Homo sapiens: one gene and its partner. The protein of the gene in region 2 purifies or fractionates together with the protein of the main gene of each other region. This does not show direct contact. Each region holds a gene or a part of one and is shown on either strand. Other genes may lie near its edges.

Evidence for each region. Proteins that work in one complex are often made in the same cells at the same time.
Region 1: the proteins of CD48 (region 2) and ZNG1C purify together in Homo sapiens (affinity purification with mass spectrometry; one large-scale study listed by BioGRID and IntAct). This does not show direct contact.

What each region holds. Positions count from the first base shown.
Region 1 is NC_000009.12:68,255,251-68,259,100, reverse strand, and holds part of ZNG1C (zinc-regulated GTPase metalloprotein activator 1C), read right to left. Parts: intron 2,181-3,850; coding exon 2,121-2,180; intron 570-2,120; coding exon 532-569; intron 1-531.
Region 2 is NC_000001.11:160,680,780-160,684,629, forward strand, and holds part of CD48 (CD48 antigen isoform 1 precursor), read right to left. Parts: exon of another isoform or gene 2,427-3,850; intron 690-2,426; coding exon 423-689; coding exon of another isoform or gene 316-422; exon of another isoform or gene 1-315. UniProt on the Homo sapiens protein: Glycosylphosphatidylinositol (GPI)-anchored cell surface glycoprotein that interacts via its N-terminal immunoglobulin domain with cell surface receptors including CD244/2B4 or CD2 to regulate immune cell function and activation.

The sequences.
Region 1 (3,850 bases), on a different chromosome or scaffold from region 2:
ATGTACTTTTTAAATTTTAAGTTCCAGGGTACATGCTCACGATGTGCAGGTTTGTTACATAGGTAAACGGGTGCCATGGTGGTTTCCTGCACCTATTAACCCATCACCTAGGTCTTCAATATTTTTTAAAAACTCATTTCCAGTGTGTGTTTAATAGTAATTTAACAAGAAAAATAAGATCTCAGATGCTTTATCAAGCTCAGCTTCTTCTATGGAACAGAAAAACTTAGCAATATTGGGGTTGAATCCTTGTGAAGAGCTATACATACCAAACTCTATCCTAACCCCATATGCTTATTACAAATTATAATTCCAAATTTTATCACCAAATCAAACTCAGAGTAATAGAAAAGAAATATTTAACACAAACTAATAATTAAAACACAAATTTCACCTATTGTTCAGGATATCTTTTTGAGAAAGGTTTTTGTTAAAGAAAATTTCAGATACAAACATAAAGAAAATTAAACAATCAATCCCCATATTCCCAGCTCTCAATAATGAGCCACTCATAGCAATCTTTCAACTTACTTTTAATCCATATTTTGAATCCACAATAGTTATGATACCTACAAAGGAAAAAACATTTTAATCACTTTTTAAAAAGAATGCTTATTAATACTTGTGCAACCATACTTCAGAATGAAAATTAAAACTAACCTATTTCAGTTCACAAATACTACTCAATAAAACAATGTACTGTTTTTTTCTCTTGCCAGTGCTGCCATTTAATTAAATTCCAGTAATAAGTCAATGCATTTCCTGAGTGGCTAGCACTATTTTAAGGCACTAGAGAAGATATAAAACAAATAAAAATTTTAAATTAAATAAATAAGAAAATAAGATTTCCTTGGCACTGAAAAAGCTTACAATCCAAAATATAAGTCAAATTTCATAACATAGTCAAATGTGATAAGTACATAAGACAGGTTATTTCTAGTTTATTTTCACATAATCAAAATCAAGACTTTTCTTAAGATTTAAATTATTGCCTAAAGAATGAGACATCTTAAGGTATCATTCCTAACATCTCTCACCAAATCCAAATCCAAATCCAGCTCATAAATGTTTTACATAACATATGCCTAAGTTTCCAAACTACCAATTCATTTTGCAATCTCTGAATATATGCTGATAACAAAAGAATGAGTTTAATTATGCTAAGGAATTCAACCAGTTACCCGCCACATATATTAGAGCTCAATGATGGGGCCCAGCTTAATAATTCTTAAATTTCTTAATGATTATTACTTTTGAAAAAGTAAGAAAATTTCGACTGGTTTTTAAAAAGGTGAAAAAGGGAAAGAGAAAGGGAGAAAACATAGTCGCTTAACTAAGAAAGTTTCTAATATATTTTAAATGAAGGCATATCATTGCCCAAAAGTGTTCAGGTAAATAAAGTAAGGGAGGAGTGTTTAATTCTTATCTTCAAGAGAAAATAAAAGCAAAAATATGATCCTCATATTGCCTGGAGGATTAAAATAAAAGGCTCTAACATTATATTAAGGGCATAAATCAAACAACAGAGGATACAGAAAACCTACAAAGCATTTTTTTTTTTAAAGAAAACCTTAGTGGAAGCACTAAATTGGAAGTTGAGTGACATCGATTTCCACCACTGTTTGGGGTTTTTTAATCTATATGAACAAAGATTTCATCATTAAACTAAAGTGTGAAAAGAACAACAATGCAAGGAATTAAAGTTATAATATGAATGAACAACAATAAGCTTAACCATAAAGATTTTACTAAAAAACAAAAGAGGCAGGGTGTGGTGGCTCACGCCTGTAATCCCAGCACTTTGGGAGGCCGAGGCTGGCGGATCACCTGAAGTCAGGGGTTCAAGACCAGTCAGGCCAACATGGCGAAACCCCGTCTCTACTAAAAATCCAAAAATTAGCCAGGTACGATGGTGCACGCCTGTAGTCCCAGCTACTCGGGAGGCTGAGGCAGGAGAATCACTTGAACCCAGGAGGTAAAGATTGCAGTGAGCCGAGATCATGCCACTGCACTCCATGCACTCCAGTCTGGGCAACAAAGTGAGACTCTGTCTCAGAAAAAAAAAAAAAAAACAAAAAAAAAAACCAAGAAAGATAAAAGAAAACTGTTTTTTAACTTACCATCAAGGTAAATATCACTCCCTAATTCAGCATCAACCCAAAACATAGAAGCCACTGCACCTGAAAATATATAATATTCATCAAATAAAAATATTTCTTCACACTGAGAAACATGATTCTATCCATGTTTTAATTTGCCCTGATAAAATTAACAGGTAAACACATATATCTTCTTATGGAAATTATAGTGATAGAAGCTTTAACTATTTATAGCAAAAGGGAATTATAGTGATAGAACCTTTTACTATTTATACCCATTCCATTTCCATCTCTCGTTATTTCCTTTAAAAAAGACCAATTCTAACCACATATAAACAAAACATCATTCTTCTACCGATGCCATAATAATTTAATTAACAGATATTATCAAACAATTTGAGCAGTATGGCTTTGTGCACATCAGACTTATTTTTATTTTCTCACCTCTTTAATATGATAATCATTCAATCATAAATAGTGAATTATCACTCTAAAGGAAAAGGAAAACAAAACATAGATAATTCCAAAATCACTTGCCCAAAAAAAATTTACTTGTAATCTGTGTAGAACTAGAAGTAAAATTATATACTCTATGGCATTACTAATTATTCCTCACACTATTTATTTAGGACTGTATAAAACCTGGGTCTTAGGAAAAATTTTTCCTAAATAATAAATTAAAACTTGCTTTTGACAGAAATTGGTTCAGTACCAAACCACATACCCTGATTAGTATGCCACAACGCAAGAAAAAGAAAACTGACAGCAAGGAAAGTATTTGATTTTTGAAAGCATCACAGGCCCAGTTAGTGACAGGGCTGTCTAAAAGAATGAGTGTAGGAGAAAAACAAGGATAATCAAACTCATTCCAACGTCTAAAGCTGTCCACCTGCTCTGACAAGATGTGGTCCCCCAAGCATCACTCTGTGTCAACAATGAAATACCGGTCAGCTGTTTACAGTGATTACTCATGCAAGATATAGCAAGGGCCACAAGATCTAATGGTTTCCTGATACCTATTGATTTTTTTCCCAAAAACGTAATAGTTTTCCAATTTGACTCAAATAGGATTTGTGAGTAACAGGGGCTGAATCAATGTCCGTTCTTTTCAAGGAAATTACTTTACCATGACAATTATTTAACTTAGAACTGGAGAGTGTCAGTCTCCAAAATGGGAAACAACTGAATTGCCAATAAGAATTCTGTTCACTTTCTTGGCTAAAACATGATTTTAATTAATGAGGGGGAAAATTAAATCTACTGTATCACTACTCCAAACAATAAGTCATTTAAAAAAGCATGAATTTTTTCACTCAGTAAAATATCTAACATACATAAATCATTTTGTAATTTTTAAAAATTCATTGATTTTTAGTCTAATAAATAGTTTACAAATCCTACTGTTAATATTTGCCTCTTAAGTTGAAATGTAAGAGTATATTAATGCTTTATTCTAAAACTGGTATTTATCTTTGATATAATACTTGCCAGACTACATGAGAAAGATCTATTTAAAATTTGGATGTAGGTATTTAGGAGGAGTAAAGATGAATGAACAAAATTGATTAGTGGCTCTCAAACCAGGGTGCTTTTCTCCCCAGGGAATATTTGGCAATGTCTGAAGATGTTTTTGGTTGTCTTAACTAGGGGAATGCTACTGGCATCTAGTGGGTAGAAGCCAGGGATGTTGTTAAATATCCTACTCTGCACAGGGCAACCCCCTCACAACAAATAATTATCCAACCCAAAAT
Region 2 (3,850 bases):
ACCTCGGTCCCTCTTTCCTTGGCTGACTTCGGCTGTCTAATGAAGCCCCTCTAGACAGCTGCTCGCCCACTTGCCCTTCCTTCTCCCTGCTCACCCTGATGTTTCAGTCTACTCTATGATGACCCTGGCCTCAGATGTTAGGACTATGCTTTGTTAGAGCGGGAGAGGGAAGAGGAGTATCAGAGATCTCTCCCAAACGTCCTTTGCAGGTGAGAACACTGAGCCCCCACGAAGTTGAGGTAAGCTGGCTGGGAGGTGGTGGTAGAGCTGGTGGCAGAACCCACGTCTCCCAGCTCTCCCAGACACCTTAGGGATTCACCACCACACTGTGCAAGGAGGCTGAATAGGACCCCCAGCCTTTCTTTGTTCAAAACAACTCCAGTTACCCTGTGCCCCCCTCAGCTCCCAGGGATCCTTCTTACCCAGGGTACAGGGTGGACTGAGGCAGACCGTGCCATTCTTGCTGCTCACAGAATTGCTGACTTGGCAAGTATAACACCTGGAGTAATTATGTGGCATAAGGGTGGTTTCAAGCACACTGTTCTGGAGCTCCTTTGGGAAGGGCCTTTTGTCCCCATACCAGGTGTAGTTTACAGACTCGCCAGGTATCACACATGACAGTTTCAGATAACAGTTGTCATCCATGTCTTCTATCTTCTCAATTTTGATGACAGGCTTGGGTACAGGGTCTGAAAGTGAGGAGGATGTTATAAGATGAGACAGTGAGGCATTCATGCTGTGAAGGTTTAGCCAACAAAGAACAAAGGGATCCAGGGAAGGGGCCTGAATGCCCCAGGAGGCAGAGTCATGAAGAAGAAGTTCTACAGAGGGAGCCAGTGAGCAGCCTTGACCTCCTGAGGCCTCACAGACTCACTGCAAGAGCGGCTTCTAGGCAGTGAAGCTAAGCTGCGTCCTGGAGGGGGCGCCACAGTCCATCATATGCTCTGGGAACAAAATGGGGTTATGATCGTGTGTGAGCCTGAACGAACAGCCCAGAGACTTGCTGGGGTCAGACTTAGTATATCAACTGCCTGAGATGCTCAGGGACCCTTCTCTAGCAACGGTTCATGGCGGGCACCTTGGCTGGTCTGTCTTTCCAATTATCGGATTCAGCTTCAGCAAGAGTCCTAAGGTAAGAGGTACCTGTCTGCGCGTGGCAAAGTCCTTTGCACAACCATCCAGTGCAGGTGCCAGCCTTCTAGACTCTGGCAGAGCTACAGAGAAGAACTTCATGTAACTTCCAGCCGCATCAATTGTGATAAACAGATTGGTCTGCTAACTTTGGTATCTCCATGTCTAGCACAATCCCTGCCACATGGCAGGTATTCTATAAGTATCTCATGAAAGGATGAATGAAGTAGTTATGAGATAGAAAGGATAAAACACAGCCGGGTGCAGCGGCTCACACCTGTAATCTCAGCAATTTGGGAGGCTGAGGCAGGAGGATTGCTTGCAGCCAGGAGTTAAGAGACCAGCCTGGGCAACATTGAGAGACTCAGTTTCTAAAAAAAAAAAAGAAAGAAAAGAAAAGAAAAGTAGCCAGGTGTGGTGGTGTGCACTTTTAGTCCCTGCTACTCAGGAGGCTGAGGTAGGAGGATTGCTGGAGCCCAGGAGTTCCAGGGTGCAATAAACTATGATTATACCACTGCACTCCAGCTTGGGTAAGGAGAAGACCTTCAAAAAAAAAAAAAAAAGAAGAAAGAAAGGAAGAAAGAGAGAGAGAAGGGAAGAGAAGAGAGGAAAAAGAAAAAGAAGGGAGGGAGGGAGGGAGGGAGGCAAGTAGACACAAAAACACTAGTTTTGGAGTGAGACCAGCCTGGGTCCTGGACTTGACTCTAGTGGAGTGACATTAGGCAAGGTAGTTAACCCCCTTGCTGTCATCTGTAAACTGACTCTACCTCATCGCGCAATGTTAGTAAGATAAAACGTCACCTGTCATGGATAATTGCTTTTTGAAGAGTGTAAGTATTGCATACATTCTAGAGGCCATTTTACCATTATTACTGTTGTACTGCTGCCGGAGAGAATGAGAGATAGTCCCAGCATCTGGTCCTTCCTTGGCTAAGGCCGGTTTACCTGCAATCCTCTGAGATCTTTTCATTCTGGTCAGGGTGAAACATCTGCAGAATCAATGCAACTCAAATCCCATAAGATTAAAAATTGGCAGAGAATTGACCAGATCAGAGCTTGCCTCTTGGTTGTATGTGTGGAGAGGCTCTAGAAGCTCTACCAATCTGGTCTCTAGAACTCTAGTTTTGTCTCCTCTGTGAAGCTGATCTCAGATCGCTAAAAGATTGCTCAGACTACAGAGGTGATAAAAGTTTCCTGGACTTCCCCTATATGTTTTAATTGAGCAATTTTTATCCTGGTTTTCACCATTTCCTGTGTTCTAGCCTCATATCTTACACTCCTTCTGCATTTCCCATGGTGATCAGCACAGCACTGGGCACTTTGCTGATGGAATTAATTGAGCCAGCTTGGGTTGTCCAGCTCCAAGATGCTCGCTTTGAGCTGTCAGAAATGCTTGGGCTGGACCAGAGGACCATTTTTTCTGCTAATCACTTCCTGGAAATCTTACCCTCAGGCAGGATGTGCTGAAGCCCAAGCCAGTTTGTGGATTTTTAAGTACTCAGAAATTTTGCAAGCTTTTTGTGAAACCATTAGTTTATTGAAATCAACTGTGGTAGCAGTATTTAAACCACAGAAATTACAAAGTTGGTAAATGCTACGCTTTAGGGCTTTTTTTTTTTTTTTTAAATCTTGTAGAGCTTGTTAACCAGAACACCACTGTAAGAGACCTTGAATCTTTTTGTTCCCAGGACTTTCTGAATTTTCAGCCCATATGACATGGAAGAAGAGTTAGAAGGGGAATCTGACTGCTTGGATCAGGGACTGTCTGGCTGGTGGAACTTGAATGTATACAACACTCTTCATTTGCATGTTTTGACATTTTAAAAAATGTTTTCACTTTCCTTATCTACTTTGACTCTAATAACATCCTGAAAGGTAAGTAGAATTATTCTCATAATATGATGAAGAACCCAAGGCTCTCAAGGGAACACCACTCTTGGATTATTTAGCCCCGCTCTTCTACAAGAATTGCATACCCCAACCCCTGGAGCCCCTCCCCATATCCATGTTTCTGCCCTATAATCTGATCCTTTCACCAAAAATGTTTAGATCAGGTACACACACCTGAACTAAATTGGGACTATCAGTTTCTCTCTCTTTAAATTGCCCTGAGAATTGAAACTCAGAGGAGCAAAAGTCTAAGTTTTGAGAGATAACATGTGTAAAATGGCAGGAATCCAAATCCATAGGCACAGTCCACAGATTCCTGAAGCTAGGGGTTCTGGCCCGAACCTGGTTTTCAATCTTCTCCCCTTAAGCCCTTCCTAGCTCTTTTAAACTCTTTGAATTGCTTTAAATAGCCCTAGTTTCTTAAACTAAATTCTCCTTTTTTGGTAAAGGTACATTGAATTAGTTTCTGTTATTTGCTATCAAAAGAATCTTACCTAATATGGGCACAGAGATGTGAAGATCTTTTTTCAAGGCTGCACAGCTAGTGAGCAACTGACCAGTTTTGAACCCAAGTCTGTCTGGCTCCAGGTATAATGCCTGAGTCCTTATTCCATATACACTGGTTAGACTGGAGCTATGAGTGGAAGTTTTTTTGTCCTGCCCATTATGAAAGTTGAAAAATTCTCCTGATAACTCCTGCCCCATTCTTTATATTAATACATTCTCTTTTTTCTTAAGTCCAATGAAGCCTAATTTCGGAGATATAATCAAGATGAGCTGAGCTGATTTAGGTTGATCACAGGACAAAATGAAGGAAATAGGAAAAATC